2 separate regions of the Homo sapiens genome follow, and region 1 is linked to region 2. A link means that fine-mapping ties the variant in region 2 to the expression of a gene that starts in the linked region. Tissue or cell type: whole blood. Region 2 holds a variant in brackets; the other region holds the start of a gene. All regions are shown on one strand. Distances are from middle to middle.

Region 1 (8,182 bases), 71 kb after region 2:
ATTATTTCCTATTTTCTACAGCTCCAAGAGCTCTGAGGGTCATGATTTCTGCTACATTCTCTTGCTCTGCAAAATCCAGAAAATAAAAAACAAGGAAGCAGCATGGTATTAGGGAAAGAACCAGTTGGAGCTAACACAATATACAGAACTTGTCACCCTACAACAGCAGAAAAAAGTATGTAACTTTTCTCAAGTGCACAGGCAACATTCTCCAAGATAGACTACATGTCAGGCCACAAAACAAATCTTAATAAATTTTAAAAGACTGAAATCATACAAAGTATCCTTTTTTTTTTTTTTGAGACGGAGTCTGGCCGTGTCGCCCAGGCTGGAGTGCAGTAGCACAGTCTCAGCTCACTGCAACCTCCGCCTCCCGGGTTCAAGCGACTCTCCTGCCTCACACTCCCAAGTAGCTGGGATTACAGGCGTGCGCCACCATGCCCAGGTAATTTTTTTATTTTTAGTGGAGACAGGGTTTCACCATGTTGGCCAGGCTGGTCTAGAACTCCTGACCTCAGGTGATCCACCAGCCTCGGCCTCCCAAAGCGCTAGGATTACAGGCCTGAGCCACCATGCCTGGCCCAAAAGTATCCTTTCAATCACAATGGAATGAAACTAGAAATCAATGGCAGAAGGATGACTGGAAAATTCACAAATATATGGAAATTAAACAACGTACTTTTAAGCAACCAGTGGGTCAAAGAAGAAAAGCACTGACCCACTGAAGCTGACATTTGCCTCTACAGACTGGGCAACATCTGTGCCAAGCTCAGCCCATCAGACTTAAATCACAGAAGAGCCAGTACTGGCTACAGTTCACCTCCCAGGCAATCCTTTATCAACCAACCTAGCCTCCTTAGGATGAGACTCACTAACCAAGAGGCAGTGTAGTTTAGTGGCAAAACCAAGTTCAACTTTCAGTTTCCCTACTTACTGATACTGCATTTGGCAAATCTTGATCTCTCAGGACGCCAGGTGTTTGTGTTTGTGTGTGTGTGTGTGTGTGTTTTAATCACCTGCGAAACAACATTCTACAACCTAGTAATTTTCTTGTGAAGCTGAGCAACCACAGAGGTTAGTGCCTGACAGTCATAATGAATTGGAGCTGAGCCACTGACAAGTTTCCCACCCCATCTTTTCAACCATAGAACCCACCTAGGTAGAGCTGGGTGAGTGAGAAGCATTATAGAGCAACAGTTAAGACCCTGGACTCAAGAGTTATGAGCCAGACCACCTGGCTTCAAATTCAGGCTCTGTGTTATCTCAGACAAATTTCTTGGACCCTATATACCACAGTTTTCCCATCTATAAAACAGAAATAACAATTGTACCTACTGCACAGGATCATTATGATAAATACATGAGTAAAACCACATAAAGCCTTTAGAAAAATGGTGGGTACACTATAAAATTCCTGCCATTATTATTACTTATTATAGTTGCTTTTATTTGTAATCAGGAAACACAGCTAAACTGGATCATTCATCCCATTCTCCCCCACCCTCATGGACTTGCTTTGTCTAATGTGAGCACACATTAATTTCATCACATGCCAGCAAGGATTTTAAATCCAATTTGTGTTCAGCCTCTTGCTCCTGTGCCTTCGGCCATGAGAAGGGCATGTTTAATTCAGGGCTGCTCTTCAGCCTCAGTCCAGGAATGGGAAGACACATGGAGCAGACCTGAACCTACCCTGCAGTGGAACAGTCACAGCAGCAGCTAACCAAAGGCCACCAACACGAGTGAGAGATTAAGAAACAAAACAAAATCAAGTGAGAGACTAATATTTACTGTTGTGAGTTACTGAGATTTTTTGATTATTTGTTACACAAAGCGCAACCTAGCAAAAGGTGATTCATACAAAACCCATCACCAAAGCCTTCTTTGTATTAATGGCAGTTCCACCTAACTAAATATTCTGCCCAGTTGGAAACTCCAAAGTCATCCATTTTCCCCTTCCACTCAGTTATTAACTCTATAATCTTTGCTCCTCAGGTATTTATGCCCCCCTCCTACATACAACTCTAACTTTGACTCCTTCATCTCAAGACTCAACTCTCCACTGTCACCTAGGTCTAGTCTTTTCCCTATATCAATCCATCCTCCACATTGCCACCACACTGATGATTCTACCATATCCATAGGATCATGCCACTTATCTACTTAAATATTTTAATGGACAACCTGCCAAATGGAATCTAAATGTGGCTTTTGCATGGAAGATCCTCCTCTATCTGGCCCCATAATCAATCAATCCCATCACCAGACACTATTCAATGAATTCCATGTCCTAGACATGGAATTCAAGTCCTCACACCAGATATACACTTTCATAACTCAGTACCTATGTTCTTGTAACTCTCTTGGTTTATACAGTCTTACCTTCCATCCTGCACCCTGAACTTGGCCAGCTCTTACCCAAGATTCATCTCACCCATTACTTCCTATCGGTAGCTTTCTGTAACCACCTTCTCAAGCTTTAGACAACCCTTCTTACACTGTACCACAGTTACCTGCTTTCTTGTCCATCTTCCCTACAAAATTATTAGTTCCATTCCTACGCATCCATGCCAAATATCTAAAATAGTGCCTAGACCACAATAACCACTTAATAATTCTGAATTAAACATTCTGGACTGACAAACAATTGTGTGTTGTTTGCACTATTTAGATGTTATCTGTATAGGCTTAGAAATCGTGGGAACACAGTGAAATTTTCCAGCTCTGATATTTCGCAAGTTTTGAGTTTTTTGGCCTTATGATGCCTCCTAATTCCAAGAAAAGCCACTCAAAGATACTGTGGGATATTTTCTATTAACATAACCAACTTTTTTTTTTTTTTTTTTTTGAGACAGAGTTCGCTCTTGTTGCCAAGGCTGGAGTGCAATGGCACGATCTCAGCTCACTGCAACCTCCGCCTCCCAAGTTCAAGCGATTCCCCTGCCTCAGCCTCCCAGGTAGCTGGGATTACAGGCGCGCGCCACCATGCCCGGCTAATTTTTGTATTCTTAGTAGAGATGGGGTTTCACCACGTTGGCCAGGCTGTTCTCGAACTCCTGATCTCAGGTAATCCACCCGCCAGGGCCTCCCAAAGCGCTGGGATTACAGGCGTGAGCCACTGGGCTCGGCCATCATAATCAACTTTTAAACTCAAATTTCCTAAGCACAGCGCCCCTCGTTGGGCTGCTCTAGGCCAGTGGTTCCCAAAGCTGGCTGCCAAAAGTCCCCTAATGAGTTCACTAACAATATAAACACAGCGACTCCACCTGAGACCCACAAGGTCCAGAGTAGGGCTCAGGCAGCTATTCAGCTAGCTCCCCAGGTGGCAATTCTAAACCAGGCTTTAAGAACCACTGATTTCAAAGACACAAAGTACAGTGCCAGCTCTAAAAGTGAACTAAACTTTCTTGTATCTGTTAGGCTTTTCTTCTTCAAACTTCACGTGCGTCACAGAATCAACTGGGGCTCCGGACAAGAGAGCAGCAGTTGTTGAAGCGTGCCCCTCCTCCACTTGCTTCCTAGCCTGGCACCGGCGGCCAGGCCACCGGGGCGCTCAGCCTACCTGGTAGAGGGCAGAGCCCAAGTCCGGCTGGGTGCCCAGCGAGGCCACCGAGTCCCCGTGATAGGCGCGCGGCCCGGCGGGAGAGGCGCGGGCACACGGCCGCAGGGCTAACCTCAGGACGGCCCACATGGCGGCGGGCACCGAGCGAGAGAGCGGCCCACGCTGGCCTGGAGCCGGTGCTTTCCCCTGCCGCTTCCCTGGCTGGGGCGGAAGCTGAGCTCAGGTCCTTGCAGCCCCAGAGAAGGTTTCTCTGATTCTCAGGCCTGTCCACACACGTGCCTAAGCGCGCCGCCCGCGATTGGTCAAGCCGCGCCACGCCCCCTGACCCAGCCAATAAGGGACAGAGCCTCAGCCCCGCGAGGTCGCGTCTAGTCCCGAGCGCAGGAGAGCAGGTCTCCCCGGCGGATCGACCCTCACGAAGCGGTGCGGCAGTGAGAGAGCTGCGGTTGGGCTTGGATTGGTGTTGTGTTGACACAGCGATAGATAATATCACGATAGTGACTGTACCTAAGGCAGGAGAATAAGTCTGGAAGCAGGGAACCTAAGGCTGTCTCACGCTGACTTCCTAGAGCTAAACTGAAAGGAAAACCCTAACTTTCCATGCCTAAGTAACAAAAGGACCAAAGGCTACTCCCTTTGCAAACCCCCCCACCTTTTCCGCAGGGCAGATAGGAAATTGGCTGTCCCCGACAAATCAGACTTACTGCTGGTGGAGGCTTGCTTTGCCAAGTTTGAACCTTAACTCCAGCCTCTGAATGGTTGCTGTCCACAACCAATCAGACTGATTGGGGGTCCAGTCTTCGTTTGCATAGAAGTATAACTTTGTAATTTCACCCTAGCCTCTGACTGCTTGCTTCTTGCAACCAATCGGGTTTGAGGTGAGCATAAAATGGCCAATAGGAAACTTCTAGTGGGTATTTGGACCCAAGAAGATTCTATATCCGGGCCCTTGAGCTCTGCTCGGTCCGCTCCCACATTGTGGAGTGCACTTTCGTTTTCGGTAAATCCCTGCTTTCGTTCTTTCGTTGCCTTGTTCTTTCTTTGCTTTGCTGGGCGTTTTGTCCAATTCTTTGTTCACAATGCCAAGAACCTGGACAACTTGCAGTCACAACCCCCAGTGACACACCAACAACATGAGTGAATCGCATCTAACACGTGCTTGCGAACAGCACAACAAGCCTGTTGTCCTTTCACTGGAGACCTTAAACATTCTTCTGATTATTTTCGCTATGTAGTTATTTTTATTTTTTACTTTATTTCATTTTTTGAGACAGGGCCTCACTCTGTCGCCCAGGCTGCAATGCAGTGGCACGATCACAGCTCGCTGAATCCTTGACCTCCCACCTCAGCCTTTCCAGTAGCTGAGACTACAGGTTTGTGCCACCAAGCCCGGCTAATTTTTTATTTTTGTAGGGGTTTCACCATGTTGGCTATGCTGGTCTTGAACTCCTGGACTCAAGCGATCTGCCCGCCACAGCCTCCCAAAGTGCTGGGATTACAGACATGAGCCACCACACCAGGCACTATGTAGTGACAGATTGTGGACATCAGCACTGTGGTCTTAAATAAAGGACTCCAAATATACCCATAAAAATTAAAACATTCTATACAAAATGCCTTGAACTTAAGGTTTTTCATTCACATATTTATTGAGCACTTACTACTTCTACTCCATTGGTTGCTTAGTGGGGCAGAGTAAAGGGGGAGGATGGGGTAGAGAAAGGGTGCGTCTACACCTGGAGGTAAACTTAGGTTCAGACTTCAAGGTACTTATAAGAAAATAATACAAATGGCCACATGATTTCTTACTGAACTGTGTAGGACAGACATTAAAGGAACAGAATGCAATTGGGAAAGGGTTGCAGCTGAGCCTTGCAGAAGCGTTGAGAGTGGACTGAGCAATGAACATGGCCAGGCTTTGTGCAAATGGAGGAGAGCATGAGCTAAACTGCAAAGGTATGATTTACACTGTGCTTGCCTCCCATGGTCAACAGAAAAAAAGGCCAGTAAAAACTGACTTTTCATATGTATCAGGGTATCAGAAGAGAGGGTTTGATATTTTAATTGCCACACTTTATTTTTCTCTAAATAGTTCTTCAATGATGCAAAGTACTTAAAATCACCACCCGAAGACAGAAAAGACACAATAGGATATGATTCCTTGCTTTCTTTAAAAGTCATACCTGTTTTGGCCGGGTGCAGTGGCTCATGCCTATCATCCTAGCACTTTGGAAGGCCAAGGCAGGTGGATTATCTGAGGTCAGAAGTTTGAGAGCAGCCTGGCCAACATGGTGGAACCTCATCTCTACTAAGAATACAAAAATTAGCCAGGCATAGTATCACGTGCCTGTAATCCCAGCTACCTGGGAGGCTGAGGCAGGAGAATCGCTGGAACCCGAGAGGCAGAGTCTGCAGTGAGCCGACATGGCACCACTGCACTCCAGCCTGGGTGACAGAGCAAGACTCTGTCTCAAAAAAAAAAAAAAAAAAAGTCATACATGTTTCTTATTTCTTGTAACTTTTGTTACAAGAAGCTCTTTGGAAATGTATAATGTTCCCAGAACAGCTAAGTAGAAAAATGCAAAAGGTGAAGTGCAAATGCACAGAAGGCCAAAAGCAGTCACCTAGCATCTGTTAGTGTCCAGTGTCTCTCTACCCCACTATTGAGATTACAAGGAACATAATCTTTGCCATCTCTGATTTTTTAAAATAATGTTTTATTGAGGCCAGGAACTTGAAACTAGCCTAGGCAACATAGTGAGCCCATGTCTCTGAAAAATAAAAATAGCCATGCACAGTGGCATGTGCTTGTAGTCCTAGCTACTTGGAGGGTGAGGTGAGAGAATCACTTGAGTCCAGGAGTTTGAGGCTGCAGTGGGCCATGATCTTGCCAAGCACTTCAGCCTGAGTGACAAGAGCTAGACCCTGTCTCTAAAAAAAACAATAAAAATAAAATAAAAATAAAGTAAAATAATGTTTTTATTTTATTTATTTATTTATTTATTTTTCTGAGAGGGAGTCTCGCTCTGTCGCCCAGGCTGGAGTGCAGTGGCACGATCTCGGCTCACTGCAAGCTCCGCCTCCCGGGTTCATGCCATTCTCCTGCCTCAGCCTCCCGAGTAGCTGGGACTACAGGTGCCCGCCACCACACCTGGCTAATTTTTCATATTTTTAGTAGAAACCGGGTTTCACCGTGTTAGCCAGGATGGTCTCGATCTCCTGACCTCGTGATCCACCCACCTCGGCCTCCCAAAGTGCTGGGATTACAGGCGTGAGCCACCGCGCCTGGCCAAAATAATGTTTTATATAATAAAAATAAGAGAATTAATTGAAAAATGTAACCGCCAGGGCTGATCTCTGCAGCCTGGTGCGCTGCCTTTCATCTCACCCTCAGTTCCTTCCCATGCATTGCTCATTCCCATTGGCTGCCATCTTCCACTTGCTCTCCTTCCTTTATCCGCACCGTTCCCTCTGCCCAGGGCATCTTTCCACGACCAGACTTGTCCGTTCCATCTTCTCCACCTGGTGAGCCCATACACATCCTTTAGGACTTGGCTCAGGAATCTCCTACTCCAGAAGCCCTCCCTGACCCCACCTCATTACCTCTTTCTCCCTTCAACAGGCCTCTATTGTGGCTCGGGTCAGCACTTGTTGTTAGGGCTCATTTAGTTTCTCCAACTTGGGGTCTTGTCAGTGTCATCATTTATGGCCTATGCTGGGCATATTACAGACGCTAAATTTGTTGAATGAATACATAAAAAATAACTGCTCTGGAATCAGAGCAAGGAGACATTCCAGGACACCTAAGGGAGGGTTATTTAAAGGCCAGGCAAGAAGCTGGGAGGTCAGGATGAGCAGTTAGACCTGGCAGGCTCTCCTTTGCTATCAAGTCTCTTCTGTAGAAACTTAATGACCTTACCTGGGATATCACATGGTATTACTTTGGTTGTACTCTATTGGATTCAAGGGGAGGGGACATAGACCCCACCACTCAATGGAAGGAGTGTCAAGGCCACTGGCAGAAAAGATGAGAGACATTGTGTGACTATCTTTGGAAAACATGACTGACATGCCAGCACATGCACTCATGTTTATACATTTATCCCAATCCAACCTTATATTTGTTTTCCTTGGCGTAACAATCCATTTCCATATTCCCTAACTCTTGCCAATACACACTGGCAAGAAACTATCTCTTTCTGGGCCACGTTCAGTACTTTTTGGTTTGCACTGGAATAACTAACTTCTGTTAAGATCCAGAGGCAAGGAGGCAGGGTAGGATCAGTCCCTTACAAGAACTAGCATCAGCTCATAAGGCAACTGCCCCAGATGAAGCGACTAAGTGCCTTTTACACAGGGAAAGGCTGGTCAGGAATGGGGAGTGGATATGAGGGTAGGTTGCCTCCACTCTGAGAAAAGCTCAAGGGGATTTGGGCATTTGAGAGTCTGGGTCTTGACCACATCTGCCCAAATGTGTCCATCCTATTTCTCAGCTTTCCATTCCTTCCTGTGTAGTGTCCTTATATCATACTGTACCTTTCATTGACCCTTCAACTCCCTTCTTGTCAAATCCTGGCTTGATTCTCGGCCAAACTGCCCTGCATCTACAGAAGATAATAG
Region 2 (8,182 bases):
CCCAGCCTAGACACAACTTTTAACAATGAAAGAAAACATTGGTTTCTGCTAAACAATTTAATTCTATGGGAAGCTATTTCTGTATCTAAAAACACCACGGTAACCATTACATCCAGCAATAAATACCATAATATACACTTATAGAGCAAAACTTACCAACAAGTCTTAAAGGTCTGTGTATACTTTAACCTGTACACTTTTATCCAACAACACTATTGCTAAAAATGTATCCTAATAATCACAGATATGTAAAGAAACTAAACAGATGTTCACTGCAGCATTATCTGTAATGTGGGAAACCAGAAAAAACCTACAGGTACAACAATAGGGGAGTAGTTAAATCAAAGGGAGGATTCATGCACTGCATTATCGTGCAACATCAGAGTTATTGCAGAATATTAGGCTGGGTGCGGTGACTCACACCTGTAATTCCAGCACTTTGGGAGGCCAAAGTGGGTGGATCACCTGAGGTCAGGAGTTCGAGACCAGCCTGGCCAACATGGTGAAACCCCGTCTCTACTAAAAATACAAAAATTAGCTGGGTGTCGTGACGCGCGCCTGTAGTCCTAGCTACTCAGGAAGCTGAGGCAGGAGAATCACTTGAACCCCGGAGGCGGAGGTTGCAGTGAGCCGAGATCATGCCACTGCACTCCAGCCTGGGTAACAGAGTGAGATTCCATCTCAAAAAAGAAAAAAATTTGCAGAATATTAAATTTCATGTAAACAGGTCATTATATTTACAATACATTAAGTGAAATGCAGATTACAGAATAACATGTAGCACACAGCATTTTTGCAAAAAAAAAAAAATTCGTAAAGATAGAAAAAGACTAGTACACGAAAAATATTAATAGCAGTTATCTCTAGGTAGTGAGATTATGAAGCTTTTTTTTCACTTTATTTTCTTCACTTTGTCTTCCTAAATTTTCCGCAAGTAACATTGTTAGATTTTTAGATTACAAATAACTTTAAGACAAAAATTATTTCTAATTATCCGGTAGATAAAGGAATGTCATTAACAGTGCTGTGGCTGAAAAATGTTGAATACATTTTCTACAGGAACGTTTAAAATTAGTCTGAGTATTCTAAAATTCTACCTGTTTTTCTTCTGAGTTCACTTCTTACAATCAACACTTACTGAATTACACTTAAAAAAATTGTTTTTCTTGGTTGAGCACAATGGTTCATGCCTATAATTCCAGCACTTTTGGAGGCCAAGGCAGACGGGTCACTTGAGTCCAGGAGTTTGAAGCCAGCCTGGGCAACACGGCGAAAACACATCTCTGCTAACACAAAAATTACAAAATACAAAAATTAGCCGGACGTGATGGCATGTGCCCGAGTCCCAGCTACTCAGGAGGCTGAGGTGAGAGGATCACTTGAGCCCAAGGGGTAGAGGCTGTAGTGAGCCAAGATCACGCCACTGCACTCCAGCCTGGGCACTGGAGCGAGACCCTGACTCAAAAAAAAAAAATTTTTTTTTCTACTCCAGCTTACTTCTAACATCTGGTTCTGGGTATATTTTCCTTGCGATAACTTCTCTGTGAAATCATCACCTTCTAAGACCTTATTCTCCCTGAAAAATACTTCTCTTGCTTACCCTAAAAAGTAGCACAAACATGTGACTTGGTTTGTGAAAGACAAAGCTGCCAGACATATTGAACCACTGATCTCAGAAAACTAACAGCTGGGAAACAAAATCATCCCTGCCCTATGGTAAACTCTCCTCTAGGGTCAATTAAATGACTCCCTAGAATGCTAATGCACACATATTATGTGACTGGTATCATACTGAAATCTATATTGAAAGTCATGAAGCAGGTATCTTGAGCGAAGGCTTCTAAGAATTTTCAAAAGCTGATATGCAAACAAAGTATTCAGTCATGATGATGTTACAGGCAGCGAGCACACATCCCAGTTCAAACTGGGATGAGTCGGTCCCAGTTCAGACCTGTTTCCCAGTGTAGTTATTATTAAGACCCCCTTTTTCTCACTCTCAAAAGCCCCAATGTGGATGGTAAGTTACACAGTCAACTTGATGGAATGTACATTTGCCTAGAAAGGTAAAAGGGGCATAGAAATTTCATTCATCCCTAAGAAAAACTTAGTCCTCAGGATCCTGATTCCAGATACAAGAGAATTTGAAGCACATAAAATAAAAGCACTATTTATTTATTTACCTATTTATTTATTTATTAAGTAGAGACAGGGTCTTGCTATGTTGCCCAGGCTGTTCTCCAACCACTGGGCTCAAGCAATCCTCCTGCCTCACCCTCCTAAAGTGCTGGGATTACAGGTGTTAAGCCAGGGTGCCCCGCTGAAACAAACTATTTTTAAGCGTTTAGTGGAAAGGCACAAAACGTTTTGTCGAAAATGATTAAAATCTATGTCATCATTAAATATTAATTGTACTTAATTGTAACATTTTAAGGGAAATGTTATGAATGACACTAGGCTATGATAACCTAGTTCATCTTCTTGCCATTTTTCCATATATGAAACTTCAGAACCAATCATTAGAAGATCACTAAGAAAAAAAAAATCGCCAAGACTCTTAGTGGAGATTTAATCTTCCATAAAACCAAACTCAATGCATTTTAGAACTAATGTGGCCTCTCAAAAATAATCTTATTAATGTATCATTCCAAAACCTGCTTTGATTTATCCCTGTGAAGGAAACATATGGCCTCTCTCTGGAGAGACATACACATAAGCATGTTGGCAAATGATGGTGTCACTCAAACACTCAATAGTGCCTTCTGCTGGTGCAGAAGTGTTTTTTTTTTTTTAACAAATTCGATTTGAAAATACTTTTCTTATAAACTGAAAAATAGAAGTAATCTTGTCTTTTTCATTCTTTAAGTACCAACAGGGGCAAATTTAGAGACTAACTTGTATATTTCTTCAAATTCCAAGTAGCTCATATTATCCTTGCTGGAATTCATATTTATGATAGTCAAAATGTTTAAAAAGTATTACCTATTTTGGTAAGACAATTATAAATGTTTATTGTTGGGTAAAATATACAAAATAGAGCAAGGCGTAGTGGTGCAAGCTTGTAGTCCCAGCTACTTGGGAGGCTGAAGCAGGAGGATTGCTTGAGCCTAGGAGTTCGAGTCCAGCCTGGGCAACATAGCAAGACCCTGCCTCTAGAAAAATAAGTTTTAAAAAATCCAATTCACTTAAATGTGGTTTTATTGATGGACAGTTTCTTCCCAGAAAAGCAAAAGCAGTCCTAAAATATCCATGAATCCTTGACTTGTTAATGGTTCCTACCAAAGGAATATTACCTAGTCTTTATATAGAAAATCATTTTGACATAGATGTGCATTTTCATTAAAATTTTAATATTACTATTTTAATATACTTAATGTATTGCTTCTGAAAATGTAACCTACCACTGAATTTGATCATCTATCTATATTCTCCCCACAAAAACTAAATTGACTTCCTGGTACACATTGAACATCACACACAAATGTTTAAAATACTAAATATCACACACAAATGTTTGAAATATTGACTTTATTAGGAAAACATTTGATAGTTCTATTCGGTCATATAATCAATCACCTAATTTTAAAACTATGTGGCCAGAGGACATCAATTACAATATGGATTTTTCATTCATTCAACGAATATTTGAGCACCTACAAGTGCCAGACATTGGAGGTACAGGGTAAACAGGAGGATCCTTGCTCTCACGGAGCTTACATTCTAGCAGGAGGACAATATTAATGTTTATAGGAAAATGATGAGTTTATGACAAAGGAAGTAGATAGTGTTTTACAAGAGCATAGAGTAGGGAAGCTAATCCAGCACAGGGAGGTCACAGAGACATCCCTAAGGAAGTGGAGTTTAAACTGAGAGAAGCAAGTGCTTAAACTGAAGGATGTGTTGAAGAAGAAGGGAGAGTAGAACAATTTGGGCAGAGGGAACCTTATAGACCCTAAGGTGGGAAGGTTCAAAGAACTGAAAGAGAGCTAGAACAGCTGGAGCCGTTCTCCGGTGTAAAGAGGAGTCAAAGAGATAAGATTAAAGATGTGAAGATTAAGATCTTGGTGGCATTCAGGGATTGGCACTTCTACAAGAAATCACTGAAGGGAGTAAT[C/G]TGACATTACTTTTCACTTCAGGATGGCCATTCTAACTCCAGGGGGTAGACTGGACTAGGTAAGACTGGAGGCAGGTAGACCTCTTCTAAGGCCTGCGATAGTGAAAGACAAAAATAAGTGGGGAAATTCAGGGGATAGTGAAAATCAGTAGGACTTAATGAGCAAGCCAGAGGTTCCTCCACAACAACCAGTACAGATGTCCAGTAGACCTACTGGATATGCAGGCCTGCAGCTCAGGGGAGAGCTGGGTTAAGAACCGTCAAGGCAGTAATCATCTGCATTTAGATGGCGAGTGAAGCCATGACAGGGGCTGAAATGGCCCAGCAAGAATAAATCAAACCATGAGAAACACATACATTTAAGAATAAGGAGATGTGGTCAGGCGCGGTGGCTCACACCTGTAATCCCAGCACTTTGGGAGGCCGAGGCGGGTGGATCACTTGAGGTCAGTAGTTTGAGACCAGCCTGGGCAACCTAGTGAAATCCCGTCTCTGCTAAAAATACAGAACTTAGCTGGGTGTGGTGGTGCGTGCCTATAGTCCCAGCTGCTTGGGAGGCTGAGGCACAAGAATCGCTTGAACCCGGGAGGTGGAAGCTGCAGTGAGCCGAGATCACACCACCGCACTCCAGCCTGGGCAACAGAGAAACACCCTGTCTCAAAAAAAAAATAATAATAAGGAGATGTCATGGGCTCGGGGGAGGGGGAAATGGGGAGCGCTGTTGTTTGAATGGTATAGTTTCAGTTTGGGACTGAGAACAAATTCTGGAGATGAATGGTGGTGATGGCTGCACAGCAGTGTGAGGGCACTTTATGCCACTGAAGTAACAGATGCCTTTCAAAAATAAGCCCGCTAAAATATCACCAAGCATAACCAGCAAAACAATCATTTCAGTGAAAATACAACTTTATATTAATCATCTCAATAATACAGATTACAGAACTGAGTTTACAGATTACAGAACTTTTCATACTTTGTGGGTCAGAAAGGATAACCGTAAATTACTGTCTCCGCTTTATGGGTGGTAAAACTGAGCCACAGAGAAATTTCTCTAAGAAAATTTAAAAGGAATTGATGTTCATTAAATAAATATCCTCACTGATTTTTTTAAGGTAGAAAAGTACAATGCACAGTGTTAAAAAAATTACTGTAACAGCCTCATGTTCGAGAAGTCTAAAATTTTAAGGCTACTACATGTGTTAATTTTCAGTACATGTCCAACAGAAAACATCCTTTATTCCAGTTACATCCTGAAGATACCGAAGTCAGTCTTCTCTATTGGTGCGTTGAGGGCTGCACTAAAACTGAGACCCAAGACCAGTCTGGTGTCTGCTGGATCAATGATCCCATCATCCCATACCCTGACAAAAGAACAAAAAAAGAGTTATGAATTTACCACCAAACTACCATTTATACACTCTCCATGTGCAGAAATGCCAAGGAAGTTTTCCTTCAGGTAATATATGGATCTACTGATTAGCATCCATGTACCATAATCTCACAACAGAAACTACGTTCAAGACAGAGGGGGAAAACGTGGAAAAAAATGATATGACCTTCATCCCAGGCCACCACAGAATGTCATGTCAGGCTTAAGGCTTAAGGAACTACTTTTATAAGAGATCTCAAAGTAACCCCTAATTTGACAATACGTTTACTTATTTCAGGAAAAATTTTCCTATTCCTTTTCTTCCCACACAAATATATAAGCCAAGTTGGTGTATTCTGTCATTAATATGCAGAACCACATATACCCAGGTAATAACCTCAAACTTTACTGGAAAATGTATATTCCCCAACCCCCATCCAAACTCTTAAGAAACTATGAAAATTATTGAATAGGCTTCAGTACATTTTATCTTATTTATTATTATTATTATTTTTGAGATGGAGTCTCGCTCTGTCACCCAGGCTGGAGTGCAGTGCAGTGGCACGATCTCAGTTCACTGCAATCTCCGCCCTCTGGGTTCAAGCAATTCTCCTGCCTCAGCCTCCCTAGCAGCTGGTATTACAGGAGTGCGCTACCACACTTGGCTAATTTTTGTATTTGTAGAAGAGACGGGGTTTCGCCATGTTGGCCAGGCCAGTTTTGAACTCCTGACCTCAGGTGATCCGCCCACCTCAGCCTCCCAAAGTGCTGCGATTACAGGCGTGAGCCACCACACCCGGCCAGCTTCAGTACATTTTATTAATAAAATAGATACCTTCAAATGTAGGTCTTTATTTTTTGCTACAATAGGAAAAACAATAACTTTAAACTGCTTGCAGAAGAAACTTTTAAGTAGAAATTTTAGTTTCCTTCTCATTGACAACCTCAAATGTATAACGAAAAATGACTGAGAAATATTACTTTTTAAAGGTTATTAGTAGGTGGCAGTTTGCTTTTTTTATATAAACTCCCTTCGGTATCTGAACCTGGCATCAACTATTAAACCATTCTTACATTGACAGACATGAATCAAACCTTTGCTCATAAAACATTCATAATAGGGACCCTAAAGTATCAACACCCAATAAAAAGAAAGCCACTCTTGTCATCTGCAACCAGGTGAATTGATTACACTCCCTCTGAAGCCTGCAGCACAGCAAGCATGGTGATGAAGGGGCTGCTTAATAATGTTCATTAAAAAGACTGCCCCAGGTAAGAGGCACTAATGAAATGCCGGATAAAAGTTTGATTATAAAAACAACTGAGCAGAAGCAAATTGGCACGCTACATATGTAACCTATTAGGATTAAGGAAAACATTGTAGGTTTCAGTAACTGATAATAACAAGCTCTGTCTCTGAAAAGACAGATCTAGCCATGTTCAAACCTAAGCAGGCCAGGGAATTTTACTGTGAAGCTGAGATTTACTAAACCCAAGGAAGGTACCATAAACTGGCTTGGAAATCCTTTCAGCTTTGAAAGAAAGCTGCTGTCTCCATGCCACCAGCTGTTTCAACAGAAGGGTTAAACATCTACAGATCTGGCCAGGTGCAGTGGCTCATGCCTGTAATCCCAGTACTTTGGGAAGCCGAGGCGGGTGGATCACCTGAGGTTGGGAGTTCGAGACAAGCCTGACCAACATGGAGAAACCCCATCTCTATTAAAAATACAAAATTAGCCAGGCGTGGTGGCACACGCCTGTAATCCCAGCTACTCGGGAGGCTGAGGCAGGAGAATCCCTTGAACCCAGGAGGCGGAAGTTGCAGTGAGCCGAGATCATGCCATTGCACTCCAGCCTGGGCAACAAGAAACTCTGTCTCAAAAAAAAAAAAAAAAAATCTACAGATCCACAGAAAACTTTACTGTCTGTTAACATTTATTTCCAAAGATAAGTCTCTCTGGGCCATTTACTCTTCTGCCTTGAATGTAATCCATTAAAAAATAATAATAATGTTAGTATGAAAATAATAAAAGATGCAATCTTTCTCAAGAGATGATTTATCTTAGCCAGGGCTGAAAAACAAGCTAACAGCTCACACAAAATACACAATTTTTCAAACTTTAATATTTCAGCTGTCCCTGTGTATTTCAGTCAAAATCTTATGTGGAAAAAAAAAACTATAGAAAAGCTTAACAATATATATTTTATATTTCATCTCAAACCTCTTATACGGCTTTCTATTGCTTCTTTCCATTTACTGGCTACTATATGTCTGTTTACACGATGATAAAATCAGGAACATGTTTAGCTCTCAAAGACTATAAAATATTTTGTTCTTAATTAAATGAATCAAACCACCACAATAAAATATACCTGTAAATTTGTTTGTAAAAATATATATTCAGCAAAAAACCTTTAAAAATTCCCAAATATTGGCCAGCCACGATTACAGGTGGCTCACGCCTGTAATCCAAGCACTTTGGGAGGCCGAGGCAGGATCACTTGAGCTCAGGCATTCAAGACCAGCCTGGCCAACATGGTGAAACCCCATCTCTACAAAAAATACAAAAAAATTAGCCAGGTGTGGTGGCACATGTCTGTAGTCCCAGCTTTGGAGGCCGACGCAAGAGGATTGCTTGAGTCCGGGAGGCAGAGATTGCAGTGAGCTGAGATCACGTCACTGCACTCCAAACTGGGCAACA

Evidence for each region. PIP is the estimated chance that this variant, and not a neighbour inherited with it, causes the effect.
Region 1: MCCC2 starts here. The variant in region 2 is fine-mapped to the expression of MCCC2 in whole blood (TOPMed, PIP 0.93).

Annotation. Positions count from the first base shown.
Region 1 is chr5:71,582,935-71,591,116 of GRCh38, reverse strand. It overlaps MCCC2 (methylcrotonyl-CoA carboxylase subunit 2), which reads right to left and starts at 3,777. Exons shown (of 17, transcript NM_022132.5): 1 at 3,563-3,777. The coding sequence starts at 3,691. LOC124900999 (a long non-coding RNA gene) reads right to left here. Exons shown (of 4, transcript XR_007058810.1): 4 at 6,863-8,166. RefSeq lists an enhancer at 3,332-4,118.
Region 2 is chr5:71,654,033-71,662,214 of GRCh38, reverse strand. It overlaps MCCC2 (methylcrotonyl-CoA carboxylase subunit 2), which reads right to left. Exons shown (of 17, transcript NM_022132.5): 17 at 3,509-5,472. The coding sequence ends at 5,355. Among named protein-coding and RNA genes, the nearest start is that of CARTPT, 61 kb to the left of the region's middle. The variant C/G (reference allele first, on the strand shown) is at 4,112.